Linked DNA regions of Homo sapiens. The protein of the gene in region 1 interacts with the protein of each later gene in a biochemical or structural test. Each region holds a gene or a part of one and is shown in the gene's direction. Other genes may lie near its edges.

Region 1 (3,754 bases):
CTTTATATTGAATTCTCAGAATCCCATGAAAGGAAAAGCAAGTAACAGTTTCTCTGATATATAAATGAAGAAACTCAGATGAAAAACCAAGTCCTAATCTTAATGTCGTGGAAAAGGTCAGTTAAGTCCGAGTGTGGTGGCTCACACCTGTAATCCCAGCACTTTGGGAGGCCAGGGTGGGTGGATCACCTGAGACTGGCAGTTCGAGACTCACCTGGCCAACATGACGAAACCCCATCTCTACTAAAAATACAAAACTTAGCTGGGCGTGGTGGCATGCATCTGTAATCCCAGCTACTCAGAAGGCTAAGGAAGGAGAATAACTTGAGCCCTGGAGGCTGAGGTTGCAGTGAGCTGAGACTGCGCCATTGCACTCCAGCCTGGGCAACAGAGCAAGACTCCATCTCAAAAAAAAAAAAAAAAAAAAAAAGCGTCAGTTAAGAGATAGCTCATCCCTCCACACTTTGGTCCTGTAAATTGTTCATCTTAATTTCTCCATGGATTACATTTATTGCCTCATAGATCAGGCCAGAACTGGGAGAATAAAATCAAGAAACAGCATGAAGATCCTTCTTTGTTTCCCATTAAGTACTCCTCTATTATTGATATTGACCCATCTGATGTTCTCCCAGCAAGATAAAAACAAGTTCCTCCCTCAAAAATGGCATCATTAGACATCAAGCTAAACACTCATAAAAATCATCTAAGCCTCTGAGAAGTAACTCTAGCTCTAGTCTTTGAGTTACTTTGATGTTTTGTTTATTTGTTTGTTGTTTTTGTTTTTGCTGGATGCTAAAGAGCAGACTACATTTCCCAAAATATTTCAATAATTATACATCCTAGTAGGTTTGTTTATTTAAAGATCAGAACCCTGGCATTGCTGTACCCAGCAATGAAACTGGCCATGCTGTCACTAGACATCAAGCATCTTTGCTCTTTTGAGTGTCCAAGAAAAGGGGCTGAGAAATACACATTGTCATGCATAAATTTGAACAGTTAGGACCCTAATCCTGAGGGTGCACCCTAGTGGCTGTAATCATGCTGTCCATCAGCCCTAAGATTAAAGATGCACTATTCAGTTGAGAAATATCCTGTAGAGTTAAATGTGAAAGAGTATTTGAAGTCTTTTTTTCTTCAATAGTATCTTTGGCTATTTCAGGTGTCATAAGACACTTTAACAATCAAAGTAAATTACAATTTTAAAATAATTTCTCTGGATATTCCAGTAGAAATGTTTTATGATTTAAAAATTATCCAGGAGATTGCCTCAAGCTGCTACATTGCTTTGCCTTTGGGAATCTGACCTTTGCAGGCAGTTGGAAGTTGACAAGATCTGGGTTTACCTAATGCTGTGTAATCTAACTTCGCAGGAGCAGATCCCCTGGTGGAGAACTTTGAGCCTCTCTATGACCTGGATGACTCTTGGGAAAATGCAGGAGAGGATGAAGGAGTTGTGCCTGGAACCACGCCTCTAGATATGGCCACCAGCTGGCAGGTGAGTGCCGCTCCATCTGTCTGATGGCTGCCCCTGAGGGAGTCAGAGGTTCAGGAATGTAAGAACAGATGGTCTTCCTGGTGCTTTATTCCCCAAAGAACATGCCTTTTATTTTTAAGAAAGTCTGTTTGTCAGAGACCATTTTTATCTTGAAAAACCCTATCCATGAAAGATCTAGGTCAGCTGAGTTCTGAGTACGAAAGTGTATGCCTAATCAGATCAGAGTTGAGATGTGAGAAAAGGTTAGAAGAAAAACACAAAATTCACATAAAAGTTACCCATTCCAAATTCACACCATAATTGTGACCATCTCAATTTCTGAAGCTAGGATAAATGTTACTGTTTGCTTAGGACTTAGGTAAGTGATTTCAGGATGTAAAAATAAACTAAGAATTCTTCTTAGAATTTCAATAAATATAAACAGAGTAAATAGATTTAAAGCCTTCCTCAAAACTCCACAGGGCTGAGATCTGAAGGTATAAAGCAGTTACTAGGTCATTTGGCCCCAGGAAGAAAAGCCAGAGGGAGGAGGTGGGCAGCATGCAAGATCTCCAACATGACAAGATCAGTTCTTCTAGAGACGAGAGCTGCTCCACTTCTAAAACTGCTCATGTGCCTCCCACAGCCTGTATGTGTCCAGCTCACTGACGTTAGCATGGTTCTCCCTTTATGTTAGCACCTCATTTCCCCAGAAGGCCTTGCCACAGAACACAAAAAGATGATGCACTCAGTGACCCCACGCTCTCCTTACCCAGGTCAGCCAGCAACAGAGTGACTGCAGAGAACACCACAAATGCCTCGGCAGCTACAGAATAATTTTTCTTTTAGCCTAAGACAATTCTGGACCCTCAGTTAAAATGTCAGTATTGCCAGAGGGTTAACACCAAGCCTTGTGAACATCTAGACATCTCAATTTGAGCAAGTTTATACAATTCATTCTCATAAGCTTGTTCCTATGGAAGAAGGGAGACAGCTTCACAGCTCTGAGTAAGCTCTTCACTAGCCTTAGGTCTCTGAGCAGGAGATGATTGACATGGTGGCCTGGACTGCCTGTTCCTTCCAAAAGGCTATAGCTCTGACTCTCTGCAGTTTGGTTGGGTATTCTGACCCAGCTCAGAGTTTGTGCAAAGCACTATTTCCCAGTACCAGAGCCCCTACAGCTGTTCTTCCCCCAAAGGGTACCATATTCTTGGAGGGTGGTCCTGATTCCTCTTGCCATTCCTCCATCATTAGGGTACCAGGCCCTCCTAAGGAGGACATGCTGAGTTGTTTATTATAAAGAAACAGACTGCCCTAGTGGTCCCTTCGATGTATAACGATTTCTGGTGTTTTTCTTTCCAACAGGTATTTGACATATTAAATGGGAAACCATATGAGCCAGAGTTTACATCTGATGATTTACTAGCACAAGGTGGGTTGTGATAAAACCAGATTCTCTTAACCATTATTATCTCCACACTGTCATTTAAAGGGAGGAACCAGCATTATCCAGGGTCTACTGTTAAAAGTTCTTATTTCAGAACCAAAAGATGCTGGAGGTAGATAAGGAGAATATCCAGTTTTAATCTACTGTAAATGTATACTGCCTTCTACTCAGCTGGGCTTTGACCTTCAAGTAGAGTAGCTTGGTTGGTTCCACTGGGAGTTGGACAGCAAGCCAGGCAGCAATGATCAGTCCCTCCAGAGTGTCTATGGCATGTTAGAACAAGTGTGTTCCTTCTTCATTTCCTTCAGGAGACATGAAACAGCTGGCTGAAGATGTGAAGCTGCAGCTGTATAAGTTACTAGAAATTCCTGATCCAGACAAAAACTGGGCTACTCTGGCGCAGAAATTAGGTCTGGGGATACTTAATAATGCCTTCCGGCTGAGTCCTGCTCCTTCCAAAACACTTATGGACAACTATGAGGTAACACCTTACCTTACAGATTTAGCAATTTTCATTTGACTTTACTCTGTTAACATCTCTGGCCAGGGCATAATCTCCTTCCCTTTTCCTTAACTCTGAAGAAGAAAACCAGTCATTGCCCAAGGCCTGGGAGGGTGACCCAGGCCAAGTTGGCAGCCCATCTTCCTGAGAATGCTGTTTTCAGATACCTTCAGATTTTCCCCGTTTTCAAATACCTGGAGACTTCCTGTGAAAATGCTACGTAGAGGGTCAGGATTTTCACAGAACTTTAACGGCCCTGAGCAAACAATCGACTGTAATCAACGTGTAGCTTCCTGTCCCCAAGAACACACCTTACCCCATGGCAGGGCAT
Region 2 (3,754 bases), on another chromosome or scaffold:
TGTGATATCAGAAACATAGTGTAGCCTGTTTAGCCCTGACTGCTATTTCTGAGCTGCATTATTAATGTTGCCAGAATATGATGGGGTCTGGCTATTTCCTGTAATATGCATCAGAATGGGTTTAATTTCAGTCAGAATTGGCTAAATTACTAGTCACAGGCAAGAGATGTTAGGTTCATTATGTAGCTATGGAAGCAGAAGTACACTCATTGGTAGGATTTTTTTTCTTCATGTCATTTGAAATGCATACATTAGGATTGGAGTTTTTTGCTTTAGGCTTGGTTATATTAAAACTTTCTCTTGCTGTTTGGAGTCCAGGAAGCCCTGAATTACCTTCTTCATTTTAGTTATGCTAGAAGCTGGGGCACATATTAGTTGTCTTGATTAAGCTCTGAAAGGGGTTTGCTGAGGAGACAGGATCTTTTTTTTTCTAACATTATATATGAGAGAGAGTTCTGAAAAGACCTGTTATAAAATCAGTTTCAGGCACTTTTCCCTTGTATGCTGTTGTGTGTTTGAAGGTCAGTTTTAAAGCATTGGTGTAATAGTCTCATGGTTTATCTTTTTAAAAAGCATTGCCTCAAGAGAGCTGTGGATAAATATATTTAATTAGTAAAGCTAAAAAGTTTTGTTGTCTTAAGTTATTTCTTTGGTAGCAAATAAATCTTCACAAGAACCTAATTTTTTTTTTCTGTTGATTTTCTATTTTGGCAGGAACTTGATCTCAAAATAGCAATTAAGTCTTGTCGCCTAGAGCTAAGTACCAAAAACAGAGAACGATGGTGCCATGAAATCCAGATTATGAAGAAGTAAGTGTATTCCTTGACTTACATTTCCCTGGTTCTACAGCCCAACCAGATGTCATCATGGGGAAAGAGGCCAGGAATCCACTCTTCTCAGGATCTTTTTGGGAACATATATTTTTTTCTCTCATTAAATATATTCTATTTCAAATAATAATATCACATTAAGATTAAGAAGGTTTAGTTAAAATCAGCTAGGACACTTACACACTGTTGGTGGGAATGTAAAATTGTGCAACTGTTACGGAAAACAGTACGGTGATTCCTAAAAAATTAAAAATAGAATTACCATATGATCCAGCAATTCCATTTCTGGGTATATACAAAAATGAATTGAAAGCAGGGACTTAAAGAGTAATTTGTACACTCATATTCATAACATTATTATTCACAATAGCTGAAAGGTAAAAGCAACCCAGTATCTACCAGCAGAGACATGTATAAACAAAATGTGGTATATTCATGAAACGGAATATCATGCAGCCTTAAAAAGGAATGAAACTCTGACACATGCCACAGCATGGATGAATCTTGTGGACATTATGCTAAATGAAATAAGCCAGTCACAAAAAGACAAATACTGTGTCATTCCACTTATGTGTGGTACCTAGAGTAGTCAAACTCACAGTGAAAGAAAGTAGAATGGTGTTTGCCAGAGGGTGAAGGGACCAGCAAATAGAGAATAATTTTTAATAGGTGCGGAGTTTCAGCTTTGCAGAATTAAACAGTTTTGTGCAGTATAGTGATAGTAGCAAAACATTGTGAAAGTATTTGATGCCAGGCTGGGCATGTTGGCTCACACTGTAATTCCAACACTTTGAGAGGCTGAGGTGGGTGGATTGCTTGAGCTCAGGAGTTCGAGACCAGCCTGGGCAACATGGCAAAACCCCATCTCTACAAAAAATATAAAAACTAGCTATGTGTGGTGGTGCATGCCCGTAGTCCCAGTTACTTGGGAGGCTGAGGTGGGAAGATTGCTTGAGCCCAGGAGGTCAAGGCTACAGTGAGCTGAGATCATACCACTGTACTCCAGCCTGGGTGACAAGAGCAAGACCCTGTCTGAAAAAAAAGGAAAGCATCTTGATGCCACTAAACTGTACACTTAAAAATGGTTAAGGTGGTAAATTTTATGCTATGTGTGTTTTACCACAATCAAAAAACTATTTCATTTCAGTTAACAAAAGTCAGCTAGGGCCGGGCGTGGTGGCTCACACCTATAATCCCAGCACTTTGGGAGGCCAAGGCGGATGGATTACCTGAGGTCAGGAGTTTGAGACCAGCCCGGTCAACATGGCAAAACCCCATCTCTACTAAAAATACAAAAATTAGCCAGGTGTGGTGGCGGGTGCCTGTAATCCCAGCTACTTGGGAGGCCGAGGGAGGAGAATTGCTTGAACCCGGGAGGCGGAGGTTGCGGTAAGCTGAGATCATACCACTGCACTCCAGCCTGGGCGACTCCGTCTCTAAATAAATAAATAAATAATAAAAAATAAATTACCCCAACATTTAGTGGCTTAAAATAGCAAACATTTAGTATCTTATAGTTTCTGTGACTTAGGAATTTGGGAGTGGCTTAGCTGGGTGATTCTAGCTTAGAGTCTTTCCTGAGACATCTCAGGATATTGGTCGGAGCTGCAGTAATCCAAAGGCTTGACTGGGGCTGGAGTATCTGCTTCCATGCTCACTTATATGAATGTTGGCCAAAAGCATCAGTTCTTCGCCATGTGGGCCTCTTCATGGGGAAGCTTGAATGTTTTCATGACATGGAAGCTAGCTTTCCCCAGAAAGATCTTTTCCTCAGAAAGAGTGAGTGATCTGAGAGAGAGAGAGAGAGAGAGAGAGTGAACGAGCGAGCAAGATGAAAACCGACGTATCTTTTATGATCTTTACTTGGAAGTGAGACTCCATCCTTTTCCACCACATTCTGTTTGTTACAGTGAGTCACTAAGTACAGCCTACATTCAAGGGGAGGAGAGTTAAGCTCTTAAAAAGAGAAGTAGACATATTTTAAAACTTCCACAGGTAGTGTGCTAAGTACTTTACAGATCATTCTTCCAGTTATCACAGCAATCTTATATTTAGGTATTATTTTGCAAATGAGGAAGTTGAAGCTTATAGAATCACATAGCTGGTGGTTGGTAAAGTGTGGATTTGAAATAAATACTTTCTGACTCTAATATCTGTGCTTAATTCCATTTTGATTCTCAAACTTGGTTATGTGGCAGAATCACCAGGAAAGCTTAATAGTATAAATTATCAGGTCCTACATGTACATGGAAATTCTGTTTGCTTCTTTTTCTTTTTTTCTTTTTTTTTTTAAAAGAGATGTGGTCTTGCTATGTTACCCAGGCTTGACTTGAACTCCTGGGCTCAAGCAGTCCTCCCACCTCAGCCTCTGGAGTAGCTGGGACTATAGGCATGCGCCACCACACCCGGCTAATTTTTAATTTTTTGTAGAGATGAGGTCTCACTGTGTTACCCATGCTGATCTCGAACTCCTGGCCTCAAGCAATCCTCCCACCTCAGCCTCCCAAATTGTTGGGATTACAGTTACAACTACACCCAGCCTAGAACGCCAGATTTGACTTACTCACTGTGTGATCTTGTTACTTAGCCAATTTGTGCTTCAATTTTCTCCTGTGTGGTGAAAGTATTAATAAATCTACCTATAATAGGATTATTGTGACAAGTAACTGAGTTAATATATTTAAAATGTTTACTGCTTGGCACTTAGAAATGTAATAGTAGTAATAGTGATGGTATTTTTATGTGTGTTTTCTTTTAAAAAATTACTAATTTTTAATTATACAAATCAGAAATTAGAATATTATAAATAATACTGATCTTTCCCCCTCTGTTCATCCACCCACAATTAAGTAGCATTTCAAATCCAGTCCCTTTTTATTGGAAATAATTTTTTTTATTGTAATGTTTTTCTTTCTTATTAGGTT
Region 3 (3,754 bases), on another chromosome or scaffold:
CAGAGACAAGTATTTTTGAGAAACAAATACCTTTTTCATTTTTTATACCAATGTAACAATAATCCATTAAACACACCTTTACTAACTGTTTTCTAGGAGTCTGATATGATGAGGAAATAGGTAAACCTTTAATAGCCAGTACTAAATTAGAGTGGCACAACTTTCACTGGGAAAAAAGATGGGTATTTTACTTTTCTGTTTTAGAAAAGTGGCTTGACAACAGTATGCTTATGTCTTAGAGTTTGAAATTCAAGTTCTTGAACATTATTAATGGCTACAATCATTCATACCCACATTGGCTGTATTCTTGATGGATCCAAAGTGATTTTCACCTCAACTCTGAATTTCATTCTCCTCTTTTGAATATAATACAACCATCTCACTAGAGGAAGCATTTCAGTCTTTTCTGATTGGAGATTCATTATTGTTTTAGATAATGTTTTCATTTGACTTATGGGTATATAAAAAATTTTATCTTAAAAATATTTCCTCTCATTTTAGCTAGCAACATTGTTTTCATGTCCACAAAAGCTGTTTTGGTGGATTTTGGCCTAAGTGTTCAAATGACCGAAGATGTCTATTTTCCTAAGGACCTCCGAGGAACAGAGGTAATTATGTTCACATGAAAAGGGTTACTATTTTATTAAGAATAAAAAGGAAAAAATGTTCTAGAATTATTGTGGGAACGAAGGACAAAGAAGGGGAAGAAACCCACTGCATTAAATCATTATTTTCCTTGGAACACATTTAATGAGCACTTGCTCTGTGTCAAGTACTAAGTTTAGCACTTGATTTTTTATTGTATTTTTTGCTATGTTATTTATAATACATAATAGTATTTGTAATATAATATACATGTTGATATATATAATATAGAACATTTGTACACAATGTCATGTCAAAATAGATCACATTGGCCAGGTGTGGTGGCTAATGCCTGTAATCCCAGTGCTTTGGGAGGCTGGGGTGGGAGGATCAATTGAGCCCAGGACTTTGAGACAAGCTTAGGCATCATAGCAAGACCCCATCTCTATAAAAAAAAACTGGTTTAGGCTGGGCACGGTGGCTCAAACCTGTCATCCCAGCACTTTGGGAGGCTGAGATGGGCGGATCACCTGAGGTCGGGAGTTTGAGACAAGCCTGACCAACATGGAGAAACCCCGTCTCTACTAAAAATACAAAATTAACCAGGCGTGGTGGCGGGCACCTGTAATCCCAGCTACTCGGGAGGCTGAGGGAGGAGAATCATCTGAACTCAGGAGGCAGAGGTTGAGGTGAGCCGAGATCGTGCCATTGCACTCCAGCCTGGGCAACAAGAGTGAAACTCCATCTCAAAAAAAAAAAAAATTAGCTCAGTGTGGTGGTACACGCCTGTAGTCTCAGCTAGTTGGGAGGCTGAGGTAGGAGGATTGCTTGAGCCCAGGAGTTCAAGGCTGCAGTGAGCCATGGGCATTCCAGCCTGGATGACAGAACGAGATGTTGCTTCAAAAAAAAAAAAAGCCCCCCAAAATAGATCATATCCACAGTTCGGCTTTATTTTGTGTGTTTTTGTTTTTGTTTTTGAGACAGAGTCTTGCTCCATCGCCCAGGCTGTAGGACAGTGGCGCATGATCTCAGCTCACTGTAATCTCCACCTCCTGGGTTCAAGCGCTTCTTAGTCTCCTGAGTAGTTGAGATTACAGGCATGTGCCACCACATCCAGCTAATTTTTTTTTTTTTTCAGTAGAGATGCAGGTTTCACTATGTTGGCCAGGCTGGTCATGAACTGTTGGCCTCAAGTGATCCTCCCACCTCAGCCTCCCAAAGTGCTGGGACTACAGGTTTGAGCCCCCGTGTCTGGCCCACAGTTCAGCTTTAATAATAATTATAGAATTAGAGTTAACTTTATAATAAGTTTAGCACTTAAAAAGCAGTATGTTATTTAATCCTTACAACAACCCAGTTGTTGCTATTGTTATTCTTATTTTACAATCAAGGAAATAAGTTTGCAGAGATTAAAATAAAGTGTCCAGAGTCACTCAGTGACAGACCCTGGACTTGAACCCAGTTCTTTCTAAGTCTAACCCTAAGGTCTAACTGCTACATAACTTTAAAAAATTATAATATTACATACATTATTAAAATATATTAGTGATATAACTAATATCACTGAGTTTTGGCTCAATGACAGTCTTAACTATGGTCATTAATATTTATGAGGACTCTAAAGGCCTCTCTTTGAGCCTAGGAATTCTATAATAAACCTCAAGTAGTGAGCATAAATGTATCTTATTTAAAGATGTAAAACAGCACTCATGTTTAACTCATCTGTGAAGCAAAAAACGACCCAGAAAAGCCTTTCTTTCCTGACTCTAAATGAGATTCTGAAAAATGCGTTCGCGGGCTTCCAAGTAATGTATTTAACATTCACATCATTAGGCTGACTGGGTGATTCAATTAGCCAGTGTCCACTGGGCATCTGCTATGTGGCAGGTTCTTGTGAGCACCAACGAGGAAGCATGACACAAGGCAGTGAGGAGCAAGCCTTAGTGGTACTCCAGCGATCCTCACTCTTTGGTGGGAGGACTTACTTTAAATTACCTGAATTATTAAAAGAGCAACCGTTTAGGGATGGGCGTGGTGTTCTCACACCTGTAATCCCAACCGTTCGAAAGGCCAAGGAGGTGGGGGTGGTTTGCTTGAGCCTGGGGGTTCGAGACCAGCCTGAGCAATAGAGTCAGACCTCATCTCTTTTGAAAAAAAAAAAGAAAAAAAGAAGGAAGGGAGGGAGGGAGAGAGAGAAGGAAGGAAGGAAGGAAGGAAGGAAGGAAGGAAGGAAGGAGAAAGAAAAAGGAAGGAAGGAAAGAAAAAGAAGGAAAGAAAGAAAGAAAGCATGCACAACAGTTTAGTTCACAGTTGATTGTGATGGGCACAAGGTTGGATGCAAGCAGGAAGGTAAATGGGTGTAAAAGCTGCCTCCTTGGCCCCTCACCACTACCGGGGGAAGCTGCACTGCCTGAGCCACTCAGCCCCATGCCCTTCTCTTTGCTGGAAGTGCCCATAGGAAATAGAGAGAGGGTCTTTGGCTGCACCTCTATGTCAGGATTACCAGGTCAGTCTTGGTGTTCAATCAGATGACAACCCTTAGTCTAGTCTAGCTAGTATACGTGTTGCACTGAACTGGATTGCAGCCACAAAAAAATTGTCTTCCTTTCAAACCAGATTCTTCCAGCCTGGGCAACATAGTGAGACCCCATCGCTACAAAAAGTAAACAAACAAACAAACAAAAACTTTACTTTTTGTAAAAATGGCATGGTGGTGCATGTCTGTAGTCCCAGCTACTCAAGAGACTGAGGTGGGAGGATTGCTTGAGCCCAGGATGAGGCTGCAGTGAGCTGTGATTATGCCACTGCACCCATAGCCTGGAAAATAGAACAAGACCTTGTCCTAAAAAAAAAAAAAACGCCAAGATTCTGTAAGTCCTTTCTCAACTCTCTCAAAGCCAGCACTCTCCCGGGCAGCAGAAGAAATCCTTGCTTTTGTGAATATTACTGAAGTTATTATTGAAAATGCTCGAGCGAGGATTCTTGACGGTTGTCTTTGAGCAGAACAATATTCAGAAGGGAAGCTGTACTTTTTTTTTTTTTTTAAGAATGCTTAGTCCCCAGATCTTAAGAATACTTTACCAAAGTGTGAGGTCTAATAAGACTTAATGCTTACGACATGTTTTCTTTGGAAAATGTTTCAGCATATTTGGCATTAGTCAGGAGTTCA

The links.
Region 2: of the proteins of NFKB1 (region 1) and CHUK, one has a biochemical effect on the other in vitro, tested with the Homo sapiens proteins (3 studies listed by BioGRID and IntAct).
Region 3: the proteins of NFKB1 (region 1) and MAP3K8 form a complex in vitro, tested with the Homo sapiens proteins (2 studies listed by BioGRID and IntAct, with this or other methods).

Annotation. Positions count from the first base shown.
Region 1 is NC_000004.12:102,609,205-102,612,958, forward strand, and holds part of NFKB1 (nuclear factor NF-kappa-B p105 subunit), read left to right. Parts: intron 1-1,370; coding exon 1,371-1,495; intron 1,496-2,839; coding exon 2,840-2,906; intron 2,907-3,229; coding exon 3,230-3,402; intron 3,403-3,754.
Region 2 is NC_000010.11:100,222,978-100,226,731, reverse strand, and holds part of CHUK (inhibitor of nuclear factor kappa-B kinase subunit alpha), read left to right. Parts: intron 1-714; coding exon 715-809; intron 810-3,751; coding exon 3,752-3,754.
Region 3 is NC_000010.11:30,451,137-30,454,890, forward strand, and holds part of MAP3K8 (mitogen-activated protein kinase kinase kinase 8), read left to right. Parts: intron 1-501; coding exon 502-608; intron 609-3,754.